Linked DNA regions of Homo sapiens: region 1 is linked to region 2. Evidence: fine-mapped expression QTL. A gene starts in region 2. The other region holds a variant in brackets. All regions are shown on one strand. Distances are between the middles of the regions. Region 1 has its middle 130 kb from the start of PROS1. Region 2 holds the start of PROS1 (protein S).

The links. PIP is the estimated chance that this variant, and not a neighbour inherited with it, causes the effect.
Region 1: its variant is fine-mapped to the expression of PROS1 in fibroblasts (GTEx, PIP above 0.99).

Annotation. Positions count from the first base shown.
Region 1 is chr3:93,840,833-93,849,179 of GRCh38, reverse strand. It overlaps the pseudogene RNU6-488P. Among named protein-coding and RNA genes, the nearest start is that of PROS1, 130 kb to the left of the region's middle. The variant C/T (reference allele first, on the strand shown) is at 5,037.
Region 2 is chr3:93,970,569-93,978,915 of GRCh38, reverse strand. It overlaps PROS1 (protein S), which reads left to right and starts at 5,020. Exons shown (of 15, transcript NM_000313.4): 1 at 5,020-5,242. The coding sequence starts at 5,167. It also overlaps the pseudogene RNU6-511P. RefSeq lists a silencer at 7,077-7,371.

The DNA of each region.
Region 1 (8,347 bases), 130 kb after region 2:
ATCCTCAATAAAAATACTGGCAAACAAAATCCAGCAGCACATCAAAAAATTTATCCACCATGATCAAGTGGGCTTCATCCCTGGGATTCAAGGCTGGTTCAATGTATGCAAATCAATAAATGTAATCCATCACATAAACAGAACCAATGACAAAAACAACATGTTTATCTCAATAGATGCAGAAAAGGCCTTCAGCAAAATTCAGCAGCCCTTCATGCTAAAAACTCTCAATAAACCAGGTATCGATGGAATGTATCTCAAAATAATAGCAGCCAATTATGACAAACCCACAGCCAATATCATACTGAATGGGCAAAAACTGGAAGCATTCCCTTTGAAAACCAGCACAAGACAAGGATGCCTTCTGCCACCTCTTCTATTCAACATATTGTTGGAAGTTCTCGCCAGGGCAATCAGGCAAGATAAATAAATAAAGGATATTCAATTAGGAAAAGAGGAAGTCAAATTGTCCCTGTTTGCAGACGACATGATTGTATATTTAGAAAACCCCATTGTCTCAGCCCAAAATCTCTTTAAGCTGATAAGCAACTTCAGCAAAGTCTCAGGATACAAAATCAATGTGCAAAAATCACAAGCATTCTTATACACCAATAACAGACAAACAGAGAGCCAAATCATGAGTGAACTCCCATTCACAATTGCTTCAAAGAGAATAAAATACCTAGGAATCCAACTTACAAGGTATGTGAAGGACCTCCTCAAGGAGAACTACAAACCTCCGCTCATTGAAATAAAAGAGGACACAAACAAATGGAAGAACATTCCATGTTCATGGATAGGAAGAATCAATGTCGTGAAAATGGCCATACTGCCCAAGGTAATTTATAGATTCAATGCCATCCCCATCAAGGTACCAATGACTTTCTTCACAGAATTAGAAAAAACTACTTTAAAGTTCATATCAAACCAAAAAGGAACCACATTGCCAAGACAATCCGAAGCAAAAAGAACAAAGCTGGAAGCATCACACTACCTGACTTCAAACTATACTACAAGGCTACAGTAACCAAAACAGCATGGTCCTGGTACCAAAACAGAGATATAGATCAATGGAACAGAACCGAGGCCTCAGAAATAACACCACACAGCTACAACCATCTGATCTTTGACAAACCTGATGAAAACAAGAAATGGGCAAAGGAGTCCCTATTCAATAAATGGTGCTGGGAAAACTGGCTAGCCATATGTAGAAAGCTGAAACCAGATCCCTTCCTTACACCTTATACAAAAATTAGTTCAAGATTGATTAAAGACTTAAATGTTAGACCTAAAACCCTAAACACTGTAGAAGAAAACCTAGGCAATACCATTCAGGACATAGGCATGGGCAAGGACTTCATGTCTAAAACACCAAAAGCAATGACAACAAAAGCCAAAATTGACAAATGGGATCTAATTAAACTAAAGAGCTTCTGCACAGCAAATGAAACTCCCATCAGAGTGAACAGGTAACCTACAGAATGGGAGAAAATTTTTGCAATCTACCCATCTGACAAAGGGCTAATATCCAGAATCTACAAAGAACTTCAACAAATTTACAAGAAAAAAACAAACAACCCCATCAAAAAGTGGGCAAAGGATATGAACAGACACTTCTCAAAAAAAAGACATTTATGCAGCCAACAGACACATGATCAAATGCTCATCATCACTGGCCATCAGAGAAATGCAAATCAAAACCACAGTGAGATACCATCTCACATCAGTTAAAATGGCGATCATTAAAAAGTCAGGAAACAACAGATGCTGGAGAGAATGTGGAGTAATAGGAACACTTTTACACTGTTGGTGGGAGTGTAAATTAGTTCAACCATTGTGGAAGACAGTGTGGCGATTCCTCTAGGATCTAGAACCAGAAATACCGTTTGACTCAGTGATCCCATTACTGGGTATATACCCAAAGATTATAAATCATGCTGCTATAAAGACACATGCACACGTATGTTTATTGTGGCCCTATTCACAATAGCAAAGACTTGGAACCAACCCAAATGTCCATCAGTGATAGACTAGATTAAGAAAATGTGGCATATATACACCATAGAATACTATGAAGCCATAAAAAATGATGAATTCATGTCCTTTGTAGGGGTATGGATGAAGCTGGAAACCATCATTCTCAGCAAACTATCACAAGGACAGAAAAGCAAACACCACATGTTCTCACTCATAGGTGGGAACTGAACAATGAGAACACTTGGACAGTGTGGGGAACATCACACACGGGGGACTGTCGTGGGGTTGGGAGCTGGGGGAGGGATAGTATTGGGAGAAATACCTAATGCAAATGATGAGTTAATGAGCACAGCAAACCAACATGGCACATGTATACCTATGTAACAAACCTGCACGTTGTGCACATGTACCCTGGAACTTAAAATATAATAATAATAATAACAATAAAAAGAACAAAAACATCGAATTCCAGCATACTGAACTGAAATAGATTTTAATTAGGGAACACAATCATGAACGTATAGTCAGTGACAGATGCATGGTGTTTGGGAATTTGTGTATATGGTCCAAATTCACCAATTAAAGTAGAAATAATAACTTTGTGATATGGATCATAATTAAATTTTATATTATTTTCACTAATCTATATGATGTCTTAATTCATCTGAACAGTTTAAAATGTGTATTTTTTGTGATTTTCCATAAGGTAGTAATTTTTCTACTGTTTATTCTTAAGTAGTAATCTCTGATTCAAAGCTTCAATGAGACAGAGTCATTTTAATTTCTGTTTTTTGTCAAGGACAATCAAGAACTCTTCTCCACTTTATATGTGTGGCTTAAGTTATAACCAGGTAGGATTATTTTTAAATAAAATAATTACAATGGAGTGACAGGTCATTTGGTATATTCTGCTGTGTGTTGCCTAATTGCATTTAATTCATTGTAGAGACAAGAACGCTTAAGCTTGTTTGAAATTTATCACATGGATCCAGGTGAAGGCTCATAACTTCCTGCAGAGAACATTTCTGCACATTCTGAGAAACTAGACAGGGCATGACATGGGACAATGTGCACATGTGATATGTCCTTCACTCTTCATGAATCCCTTTCATTAGCACCATGGGCTTGATGGGAAGGAACTTCTCAGAGAGAAAGAAGTAAAGCTGAAGCAGCTGACGCAGTAGACCAAGCACTGGCTTAGAAACAGAGTTGTTCATTGACACACTGAGAGAAAGAGCTAACACAGATGACAGCTTAAGATGGTATAGCAGTGTGGAAATGACCTGGGCTCTGGTGACAAAGATCTAGTTTTCCCTTCCAGATGATTAGCTGTGAGTGAGCTATTATTCTTTAAGTTTCAGCTTTGGAATATTTAAAATAGGAATAATATCCACATCAAAGTATCAATGTGACATGTAAATGAGCTATGGCATGTAGAGATTTAAATACAGGGCTTGATATATAATAGGTATTAGGTAAAAAAGTTACCTTTTAAATAGTAATAATATTATATTTAATCATAATAGTAAAAACACTCTCTTAAATTATTTTAACCAGTAAAACTCCCAATGGCCAAGTTAACATTGTACTCCTCAATAAATGGTGTAATTGTTAATTATTTTTTAAAATGTCACATTCAGTTTAAACTCTTTCTATTCTCAAAGACAAATACACTCTTGGCTCAGGAAATGCCTCTGTGTCAGATAGGGTTTTTCTCACTTTTTTCTCCAAGGTCAAATAATAAGGCTCTCTTTGCAGATACTCCCTGTAGCCTGAACTTGGGTGGCTATGTACAATACCGAGTGCCATACCTTGAGCCAAACCATGCACCTTTTCTTTTAAAGGAGAAGGAAACTTCCGAAAGTGGTAGGACTTGGCAGTCATTTGTATACTGTATAATTCTACTAATTTTTATCAGTATCATTACACTTTCTATCAATAAAATGAGTCAACCATATTTACTTTTATTCCACACAAATGGGACTAGAAATAATCTGGCTTATCACTATAAAGAGTTTTGTAATCTTTAGAGTTATGTAGTAATCTTTCTTTTCTATTAAAGTTTATTGAAATACATTTCTTTTACATAAAACTTTATTTTCAAATTCTTAAAAAGGTTTTGAAAAGTTACTATATTAAATGAAAGGAAATCATGAATTGAAACAGAAGAGTTAGATTGAGAGCTCTGGTTAAGTGCCATAAAGCAGAGATGTGTGTGCAGAGACAAAAATAAAACAGACGTGAAGGAAGAAACAGAGCAGCCATGAGGCTCCAGTGGCCTGGAGAGACAGAGAGATGATTTGGTTTCAGTTCTTCAAGGGGGATTGGCTGCTCATATTGCTCTTTGTTTGTATGACATAATCTTTGTCTTAGGTTGGGTTCCCCAATCTAAGGAAACGCTAAACAAGGCATCTGAAAGATACTCTTGGCCGGGTGTGGTGGCTCACGCCTGTAATCCCAGCACTTTGGGAGGCCAAGGCGGGCCGATCACGAGGTCAGGAGATAGAGATCATCCTGGCTAACACGGTGAAACCCCGTCTCTACTAAAAATAAAAAAAAATTAGCCGGGCGTGGTGGCGGGCCCTGTGGTCCCAGCTACTCGGGAGGCTGAGGCAGGAGAATGGCGTGAACCCAGCAGGCAGAGCTTGCAGTGAGCCGAGATCACTCCACTGCACTCCAGCCTGGGTGACAGAGCGAAACTCCGTCTCAAAAAAAAAAAAAAAGAAAAAAAGAAAGTTACTCTTTGTGTTAGATCAGTTTCTTCAAAATAAGGAGATATTAGGCTAGGGATTCATATGCAAGTAATTTATTAAAGAAGTGTTCCGGGTTAAATTGCCAAGGGAATGAGGGAAGGAGGGGAGGGAAGCTAAGAAGCCAGGGTACCACTTCAAGTAGGGGTGATGCCAGTCTGATTCAGCAGGGAATTTTGGAATGTAAGTTACAAGGCACTGTTTGTCCTGACAAAGGCAAGGGAACTGGGCTTTCATACTCCCACACCAATGAGTCATTAGCTTGTGACCATCTTGGGAGGCATGGTAGTTGCAAATTCCAAGCATTTC[C/T]TGTTCTCTGCTTATGCTGGCAGAGATGCTTCACTAGCTCAAGGCCCTTCTTCAAAGAGGATGGCTGGAGTGGCATCCAGAACTGTGGCAGAATAAATTTTTTTTATGCCGCGAAGTTTGTGGTAATGTGTTACAGTCGCCATGGGAATCACACAGCGACCATGCCTTTTTATTAAAGAATCAGCAGGCAAAAAACTGCTTTCTCAAATTGCTCACAACTTTCTAAATGCTTCATCTCAAATTCTATACCAAATTCCATCATGATTTTTAGATCTTTTTTTAAATATTAATAAATTTTTAGAACGTGTCATCCTTGCACAGGGGCCACACTAATCTCTGTATCATTCTAATTTTAGTATATGCACTGCCAAGGCAAACACTAAATCATTCTTTGAGTAGCACTATACACTTATATCTACAGAATGCATACCCTTTTTTTGTGTAAACTATCTCAAATGAGTTTCTGTACTTGCAGTCAAAAGAATATTGACTAAGATTGCTTCCATTCTTCCTTCTCCCTAGAAAACAGACTTGTATTTATGAAGCTGACCAGTGCTCCTTCCTTGATGTTGCCTGTAGCTAGATCTTCTGGTTGTCCATCATATCTTCATGAGGGTTAAAAATTTAGGACACTTTCATTTGTAGCCCTATCATAAGCAACTTCCAAGACACTCGTGTTGAACCACATGTAATAATGGTGACTAAATTCAATTTTTCCCGGATTGGCAGGCAATTAAATAATGTGTAGACTGGTCTTAATCGTGGACCTATCTCTTTTCATTATTAAGTCTTTTAAGAGTGTCAAAATTTGGCTAGGCTTCTACCTGTTTTAATATGTCTATTTACTGAGTTTGTTTTGTTTTCCATAATAGAAACTCATAACCAAAAAAAGTGCATATCTAATCTTTAGATTGGATAATCTTCATTTCTACTCAATACATTTTTTCTTTCTTCATTAAAATATTTACTTATTAGTTCTTTTTCTCTCATATACAAATATCTTTCTTTCCTACTAAAGGTCATGAGAGAAAAGTTATTTTATATGACCATTATAAACTCATGAACATGCAGGAAGTCACTGTATTAAATGGAAGAAAGTTATAAAATTAGTGATAATTTAAGACCAAAATTTAGACTGATAGTTACGTTTAGGCTGATTTTATATTTGTTGATAACTTTTTATGTTTCATCTAATAAGAAATTTGTGGTGAGTGTTCAATAAAAAAGGGAAAGAAGGAAAGTAAATTAGGATTTTGTCTCATAAAATTTGTTGGTGTATTTAAATCTTACATGCTGAGATAATATTTTGAAAGGCATTTGGCATTTCTTGAAACAATACATAAAGATATGAGAGTTGAAATGATATTTCTCTCTCTAAAACTATCAGTTGAAGGTAGAAAATTCATTAGCTCATCTGATACTTTCTAAGGTGAAAGAAGTCATTAATAGAATTATGCTTCCCTGTAGTTCTTGCTATATTTAAATGTTGAAAAGGTTTTATTTCTGGAAAACAATTTAAGGGCTTTACAATATAAGAACTTTTGTATTTAAATCCAGAATTACTCTTTTATCAAATAGAGCTTTTGATTTTCATGTTCTGACTGGAAGAAAGATTTTAATTTATAAGATATGAATCCATTAAATAATTTCATCATGATTACGATTTGAATGATTACACCCACCCTCAGTATTAGAGATGATACTAAAAATTAAGTAGAAGGGAGTTGGACCTCATTTGATTTTGTACTCTTGAAGACAGATGAAATTATCTAAACGAGAAAAGTATGATCTTGTGCTGTGTGTTTAACGTTTCCAATTTAAATTGCTTTGACTTCCCCTGTATCTGCACTTATATTTGTCCATTTATGCACACAGCTTTTTTTAGTTGCATTAAAAAGGCACTACAGTTATAAAATATCATTTTAACTGTAACTTGTGATTTTGGAAAAAGTTATATAAATAACACAACTTCGAACTTTTGATAGATCTTCTATATGAAATATCCAGAATATTAAACAGGAAATAAATATTATTTGCTCCCTGTGGTTTTATCAGCTAGATTGACTTGGTTCTGACTTCAAACACACACTGCCTGGGTCCTCTGGTAAATAAAAGTGCTTGGGTTTACATCTATGGTATATTCCAGCTAACTCTTTTGCTAAGCTCTTTTTGGCAAGATGAAGGCTATCAGCATGAACCAAAACAAATAGCACAGTCTTTTTTTTTTTCCTTGACTTTTCATACCATTTCAAATAAGCTGATGTGTGCTGGATTGACCACACGATGGCAGTACATGAATGTCTTATAAATGAAAGCAAAGTAAAATGACTCTTCAGACTGCGCAATGACCGAAAGTATCCTCTTAAAACACGAATGTGGCCGGTCCCGGTGGCTCATGCCTGTAATCCCAGCAATTTGGGAGGCCGAAGCGGGCGGATCACGAGGCCGGGAGTTCGAAATCATCCTGGCCAACATGGTGAAACCCCCGTCTCTACTAAAAATACAAAAATTAGCGCCGAGTATGGTGGCGGGTGCTTGTAATCCGAGCTACTTGGGAGCCTGCGGCAGGAGAATTGCTTGAACTCAGGAGGAGGAGGTTTCCGTGAGCCTAGATCCTGCCACTGCACTCCAGCCTGGGTGACAGAGCAGGACTCCGTCTCGAAAAATAAATAAATAAATAAATAAATAAATAAACCCCACGAATGCGTCCCTATTCCATGGAACATCTTTCGTATTGAAAATATTGTCAATTTATGTCCTTAATATTGAGATTTTCCCTTTCACCACAGACTGATAGAATTGTTACTATTCAGTGAAAGCAGGTATATGTTAAAGACATTGCTTTGGCTTTATTTTAATTGAAAGAATGGCCAGGCTATATATAATTATATATTATAATATATATATATATTATATATAGCCAGGCTATATATAATTATATATTATAATCAGTAGGCATAAAGTAGCTATATAATATATATAGCCAGGCTATATATAATTATATATTATAATCAGTAGGCATAAAGTAGCATTAACCCCTCACTAACTTATACAGCTCTTGCAAAAATAATAATTTCTATAGTGTTTTTCCACTCATTATTAATGCTCAAGACATCCTTCAGAGGTTACTAATAAACTAAATAACTATTTTAATGATGAAAAATGTAACCTAGATATTAAAATTTCAAGACAAGTGGAAAATCATGGGAGTTATCTTTTAGAAGGGGACAGTTTTCAGGTCAGTGGTTATACTCCTATCAACCAAAGTGAAATAAAATCAATAGATAGGAGTATGCATATTTTAAAAGAGA
Region 2 (8,347 bases):
TGACAAGGACATTCCTGTAGGGAAAAAATTATGCACAATATGTAGGGATCTGTGTGTCCATTCATTTTCTACTTAAATAAATATTTTCAAATCCTGATGAAAGGATAGAAGGCACTGAGAATCCCAGTGTATTCGCGGGGAATATAATGATTTGAGACTAAGATACATATAGGTTTTAAATTAGTCTCTGTCCTTTACTAAATCATGTAACTTTTTTTGGTTTTGTTTTGTTTTGTTTGAGACAGAGTCTCCCTCTATCACCCAGGTTGGAGTACAGTGGCATGATCTCGATTCACTGCAACCTCCGCTTCCTGGGGTCAAGTGATCCTCCTTCCTCAGTCTCCCAAGTAGCTGGGACTAGAGACGTGCACCATCACGCCCAGCTGATTTTTGTATTTTTTGTAGAGACAGGGTTTCATCATGTTGCCCAGGCTGGTCTCAAACTCCTGGCCTCAAATGATCCGCCTGCCTCGGCCTCCCAAAAGTGCTGGGATTATAGACATGAGCCATGGCACCCAGCCTCATGTAATTTTAATTCAAATTTATATACATCTCATACAGCTTGCTATCTCCAAAATACTGTGCCTTATGGGGAACAAAGGGGGTGATACCTTTTCTTCTCATCATAACAGTCACAGCCAACACTCATATAACAAAAAGAATAGCAAGAGAAAAGCATAACAAATTTATTTAATCCAAGTTTTATGTGACATGGGAACCTTGCAAATGGAGATGCAAAGATGCAGGGAAGACTACCCATTTTTATACTTGGGTTCGATGAAGAATGAAAAACCCTGAAGAACTCTCATTGGTCAAAAAGGATATGACCTAATGAGAGCAGACTGTGTGGAGAAACTCAGCAAGGCCTGTCTGTTCAGATTCCTCTTGACCTGATTGTTCAGCATTCCTTCTTCCAGGGTATGGGGTAGGACCCTTTCTAGAATGGGAGTCTTAAGACGTACTATCAAACAATGCAAGTCAAAGAATTTATTTATGGGCAGGTCTTTCATGGAAAGGAAGAAGGTTAGAGTAATATTTTGGGGTTTGTGGCTGGCTTTGGGGAAAGGGGGTTGTGGTTTCTATAACTGCACCTGGAGAAAGAGGAATTATAGTTTCTATGGCTTGCATAGTGGGAGAATGAGGGGCAAGAGACGAGGAACAGAAGGTTAGAGACAGAAACTTTGCTTCTGAGGCCTTTATTCTGGGATATTTTCTTCTAAGCTCCAACAACCCTATCTATAACATGGAAATTAAAATACCTACTTTTCCAGGTTGCTAAGGTGATGAAATGAGAGAAATGAAGCTCAAGTGTAATTTCTGATAAATAATAGATAGCAAATTTTAAAGTTGGTGTCACCTGTCCCATAAACACTTATGGTATGTGTCCTCCTACCTCCAAATATCCATGGTGGGAGACAGGAGAGCAGGGCAGGATAAGACTGCAATGCTCCATTAACTCCAAGCCAATTTAGGACTGTTTCTGCTGACTCTACTTTCATGACTCACTTTCTTAAACTAGTGTCTTGCAAACCCTAAAGTTATATTGTTTGTATTCACTCTTTGATCCATTTACTATGATTGGGCTTCTGTCCCATCTAACTACTGAAAGCATATTTTTTGATATAACTTATATCTTCCTAATTACCAAATCGGTTTTCTTTTCTATTATTTAATATATATATAATATAGTTAACTTTTCTAAAACTGTTTCCTGCCTTGGTCTTTCACAGTTATGCACTGCACTACCCTACCCTGGTTCTCTTCTTCTTTGTTTTTTTAACTTATTATGGACCGCTTCATGAATTTGCATGTCATCCTTGTTCAGGGGCCATGCTAATCTTCTCTGTATCATTCCAATTGTTGTATATGTGCTGATGAAGTGAGCACAACCCCTGGTTCTCTTCTGATCTCCCAGGCCATTCCTCCTCTGGATTTCTATATGTAACTTCTAAGATATGACCTTACCCCTCTGCTTTTCTTTTTTAAAACATGTTGTCTTGATGGAATTTGATTATTATTTCTGTGACTGAAGGATCTCATGATGTGTATGTTTCTTGAGCATTTTTAGAACTATATTCAAGACTGTTTTTTCACAAATATATACTCAACACCAGTTTTGCAGTAAATCCTCATTTATCTTCATCCAGAGGTTCTTAGAAACTATAATTTTAAACAAAATAACATACAATAAAACCAATTTTACCACAGACAAATTGATATAAATCAATTAAGTTCCTGTGGCACATTTCTGGTCACAAAAACATCACCAAACTTCAAAATAAAGATGGAACCACTAGTAATAGTAAACATTGAAATAAATGTGAGCTATACATTAAGAAAGATGAATAACAACAAGTAAGATAATTATTTGTCCACTTATTCCAGTTCAGGATCATAGGTGGCATCTCAGGGTAAAAGGTGAGAACTAGCCCTTGACAGGACACCATTCCATCACAGGGTGCTCTCATACATGCCCACACTCACTTAGACTGGGACAGTTTAAACACACCAATTCACCTAACATCCACATCTTTCAGATGTGGGAGGAAAATGGAGTACCTGGAGAAAACCCATGCAGACGTGGGGAGAACATGCAAACTCCATACACACAGTGGCCTGGGCCAGTAGTTGATTTTATTTTTCTCAGCCATGTCATAATGAAACAATACTATTAAAGCATCTGCTCTACTTCATGCCTTCCCCATTTCTGCTAGTGATAACATTACCGAGCATTCCTGGTGCCAACATGCAGTCCCTTAGCAAAGCTGACTCTTAGTTTTTGAATATCTTAAGTGGTTTGGTAGCCATAAGTGCTGCTCACCATGTCTAGTTCTCTTTCCTTACAGGCACATGAAATAACAGTTATTCCCACCCTCTTCAAGTCAGGCATACCTCGTGCCTTGCTTTGTCTAATGAAATGTAAGTGGTATGTCACTTCTTGGTAAAAGTATTTAAGAGCTGGGGCACAATTCTCAATGTTCTCTCTTCTCTTGCAATGGTAATTGTAGAAGACTATGTTGACTTTGAGGGATTGTAAAATCAAAGCAGCATGAATTGCTGAGTTCACACATGGAAGATAGTTACTTGGAAAGTCATGCAGACTTGTAGTAGACTTCCAATGAGCAAGAAATAAACACTTCTTATCTAAAACACTGTAATTTTCTGGCTTTTTAGTGTGTAATCTGGTTTATTCTGAATGATGAAAAGAGTCATGCTGCTATGATTCTAGTTAACACTGTCATTTCAGGATAATTGTTGATATTTTGGCATAAATATTCCCAGGCACACACTGTTGACTTAAATAGAATGAAACGTTTATGTACCAGTCACTGTTTTAAGCACTAGTAATATAGTTGTGAACAAAACCTTTAAAAATTCCTGCTCTCATGAATCTTACATTTTACTGGTGAAGACAGATGAAGAAGTGGATAAGTAGACACTATGTTGGTAGAAGATGATATGGAGAAGTGTAACACTGGAAAAATGATGGGATTAAGATTATGAATGAGACTAGATTAAGAGTTAAATTTTGGACAGGTTTTAATTGTATATTAAGGTCTGTATCAAAACCAAACTTTGGCTAAATGAGATTACCAAGTGTCAATTCATATTGAGCTAAAGCCAGATATCACTTTCACAAAGTTAACTTCTGAGATTAATTAAAAACCCAGAATTTTATTGAAAGATGTATTGTCAAATTGTATATTAATAGATTCCAGATGGTTTTACAAAGTTTGACGTTACAGTGTAGGACACATAAATTTTCAGTGTTGACAATTATTACTGGCAATGTGATGCAAATTTGTGGTATTAAAAAGATATTCAGGCCAGGAGAAGTGGCTCACACCTGTAATCCCAAAGCTTTGGGAGGCCAAGGCAAGAGGATCACTTGAGGTCAGGAGTTCCAGACCAGTCTGGGCAACACAGCGATACCATCTCTACCAAAAAAAAAAAAAAAAAAAAAAAACAAATTAAAAAATTAGCCTGGCATAGTGGTGTGTGACTGTAGTCCTAGGTACTCAGGAGACTGAGGCAGGAGGATTGCTTGAGCTCAGAAGTTCGAGGCTGCAGTGAGCTATGATTGCACCACTGCACTCCAGTCTGGGCAACCTAGTGAGACCCTGTCTCGGATAAATAAATAAATAAATAAATAAGGCTAGGTGTGGTGGCTCACACCTGTAATCCCAGCACTTTGGGAGACCGAGGCAGGCAGATCACTCACGATCAGGAGTTCAGAACCAGCCTGGCCAACATGGTGAAACCCTGTCTCTACTAAAAATACAAAAAAACTAGCCAGGCATGGTGTCAGGCGCCTGTAATCCCACCTACTCAGGAGGCTGAGACAGGAGAATCACTTGAACCCGGGAGGTGGAGGTTGCAGTGAGCCGAAATTGCGCCACTGTTCTCCAGCCTGGGCGACAGAGTGAGACTCTGTCTCAAAAAAAAAAAAAATTTTTTTAAATTAATAAATAGGTAGATGTATAGATAGATATTCACTTTCAACTGAAGTCTTTATCGGAGCAAGATTTTTTTTAAGGTAGATTATTCTAATATTCCCTTCTTTTCTTCATGTTCTTTACATTATTTTTATGCCTGTATGGCATACAAGACCGAAAAAACATGTGGATGATCAAAATGACCCCATTTGCTTTTACTATCACCATAGTTCTTCCTAAAGTCCTCATTGACTTCCAGGTTTTGGTTAATATCTTCAGGGACAACTCAGTGTCTCACTGTTTCTGCTTCTGAACCTAGGGATCCTGTCCTCTTGAACCCTGGAAGTTGTCTTGACCAGTCAGAGAACTGCGTTCCCCACCCCTTCCCCTTTGGAAACGTCACACTGTGGAGGAAAAGCAGCAACTAGGGAGCTGGTGAAGAAGGATGTCTCAGCAGTGTTTACTAGGCCTCCAACACTAGAGCCCATCCCCCAGCTCCGAAAAGCTTCCTGGAAATGTCCTTGTTATCACTTCCCCTCTCGGGCTGGGCGCTGGGAGCGGGCGGTCTCCTCCGCCCCCGGCTGTTCCGCCGAGGCTCGCTGGGTCGCTGGCGCCGCCGCGCAGCACGGCTCAGACCGAGGCGCACAGGCTCGCAGCTCCGCGGCGCCTAGCGCTCCGGTCCCCGCCGCGACGCGCCACCGTCCCTGCCGGCGCCTCCGCGCGCTTCGAAATGAGGGTCCTGGGTGGGCGCTGCGGGGCGCTGCTGGCGTGTCTCCTCCTAGTGCTTCCCGTCTCAGAGGCAAACTGTGAGTAATCAATAGCGTCTCTTCTCCCTTCCCCAGCATTGTCGACTGAACTGCGTGCCCTGGTTGGTAGGATTTTCTTCTCTAGAGCTGCAGCCTCCTAGAAAGTTTCCAGTAAGTACCGACAGACACCCAGCGGATGGAAACAGCCGTGGATAGAGCAGGCAGTGCAATGGTGGGGCAGGATCACTATTTGCACAGTTGCGAGAATGTATTGCCTACAGGACAGATCTAAGAACCTAGATGACACTAAGTATCAATGGAGGGATGAGAACACCTGCCCATTTCCCTTCAAAGCTGAAGTTCCCAGTCAGAGAACTAGGATGAGCAGATTCTAGCTTATGAGTAGGGAAGAAAAGGTAACACACTGTGTCTTCCCTTTGTCCAAGCGCCTGCCCCCAACCTGCACCCGTCTCCTGAAACCTGCCTCCCTTTTGCAATTTCTGGACTTTGAGCTTGGTTTGCTTGTCTCACATTAACGAAATGTTTTAGGATGACTGAGGGTTTGTATAGCAGTAGATATATGTCACTTTCTAACCCTGAAATCAAAAGGACTGTTAAATACTGTATTCTATTTCTCAGATCGTTTGTACTGAGGATTTTTTAACACTGCATGCCACTGATCTGAGGTGGTGGCATGAATTCTTTATCTTTGTGTTTCAGGTTCTTTATGTCCTTATGCCCGGATTCAAGACAGGATATTGAGTTTTCTCTGAAAAATATATAAGGAATACCAAGGCAATTAGTACATTTTAGTGGTCAGTTAATTTGTTTTCTAAAGTTGTAAGTGTGTTTATTGAATAAAAACGCCTTTTTGTTTGTTTGTTTGAGGGTGAGTCTCGCTCTGCTGCCCAGGCTGGACTGCAGTGGCTGGATCTCCGCTCAATGCAACCTCCGCCCCCCGGCTTCAAGTGATACTCATGCCTCAGCCTCCCGAGCAGCTGGGATTACAGGTGCCTGCTTCGACACCCGGCTATTTTTTTTTTTTTTTTGTATTTTTACTAGAGACGGGGTTTCACCATGTTGGCCAGGCTGGTCTCGAGCTCCTGACCTCCGGTGATCCATCCGCCTTGGCCTCCCAAAGTGCTGGGATTACAGGCGTGAGCCACCGCACCTGGCCAAAAATGACTTCTTGTTCTATGTTTTATTTTCAGGGATTGGAACAGGAGTGAGAACTCTGAATTACAAATAACTTTTAGGAGTCTAGAGCTCCAAAGTAAACTTTTTGAAGATGGAAATTTCTAGAAAATTATATATCAATTTGCTAACATTCCACTAGTTTCTATTAGTTAGTCATCAGGATGAATGCAGTACTTTAAAAATCTAACTTGGGACTAAAACATTATTTTTTGATCTTACATTAAACAGCTACAATTGCAAAACTTCAGCATTCAAACCCCTATCATTCAGCCAATTTGTAACTACATGCGCTTATTACCTAAATAGTTCATTAGGACAATTAAATATTTGCTTCATAGCTAGTGTTTTGGAGAGGAGAAAGGCAAAGTAGCTTGCCACACTTAACTCCTTGTCATCATAGAAATTTGCTAGGCTTTTTCTCTTTGTAGAGATTGTTACATTTTGACTGAATCTAGGCAGAGGTAAAAATTATATGGGTTTGTGTATGTGTATTATATATAAACATATGGGGAATTACACTTGTTATATATAACACTGATAGAGCAGATAAATTAATTCTTCAAGTATATCACATAAAGAATAGTTGGCCCCATAATGCTTTCAGTTAAAAGTTTTTGATTGCTTAATTGGATTAAAAGTCATCTGTGGTTTACTTATGAGGAAATTTGGATATAGATGTGATGTTTTTAATCCATATGATTTGATTTTACTTTATTTTTATTTATTTACTTTTTTGAGACGGTCTAGTTCTGTCACTAAGGCTGGAGTGCAGTGGCATGATCATAGCTCATGGCAACCTCCCCCTCCCGAGCTCATGGGATCCTCCCAGATCAGCACCTATCTAGCACCGCACCCAGCTAATTTATGTGTGTGTGTGTGTGTGTGTGTGTGTGTGTGTGTGTGTGTGTGGTTTTTATTTTGTTTTGTTTTTTTGGTAGAGTTGGTGTTTTGCCATATTGCCTAGGCTGGTCTTGAACTCCAGGGTTCAAGCGGCCTGCCTACTTTGGCTGCCCAAAGTGCTGGGATTACAGGTGTGAGCCACTGTGCCCAGCCTCCATATGATTTTAAATCTGAGATATAATTAGAGCTGTAAATATTTTATTTGTAATTCATTGTGTAGTTCTTTATTTAGAATTATTTATTTATTTATTTATTTATTTATTTATTTATTTATTTATTTAGAGATGGAGTCTTGCTCTGTTGCCCAGGCTGGAGTGCAGGAGTGCAGTGGCGTGATCCCAGCTCACTGCAACCTCTGCCTCCTGGGTTCAAGTGATCCCCCCACCTCAGCCTCCCAAGTAGCTGGTATTGCACCAGCTGGCATGCACCACCATACCCGGCTAATTTTTGTATTTTTAGTAGAGACAGGGTTTCACTATGTTGGCCAGGCTGGTCTTGAACTCCTGACCTCCAGTGATCTGCCCACCTCAGCCTCCCAAAGTGCTGGGATTACAGGAGTGAGCCACCTTATCCAGCCTATAATTCATTGTTTAGGCCATAGAAAGCTAAGGACGATTAAAAAAATATTTTTGTGATTAAAAAAAATCTTGCCCAGACCGGAGTGCAGTGGCTATTCACAGGCACTATTATAGGGCACTACAGCTTTGAACTCCTGGCCTCAAGGAATCCTCCCATCAGCCTTCTGAGTGTCTGGGACTGTAGGTATGCACCACCATGGCTGGCTTATAGTTGTGATTTAAAGAAAAACATTTACAAATCATAGCTTTATTTTAGAAAGAGTTATTAGAAATAATCTAATTCAACTTATTTGTTTTAAAAATAAAAAAAGAAATTGTTCAGAGATATTAACTAATTTTCCAGAATACATATATATACATACATATATGTATGAGAGAGAGAGATGAGAATCTCTATATTTAACATATATACTGTCACCCGGTCATAGCCGCTCATGCCTGTAATCCCAGCACTTTGGGAGGCTGAGGAGGAAGGATCGCGTGAAGCCAG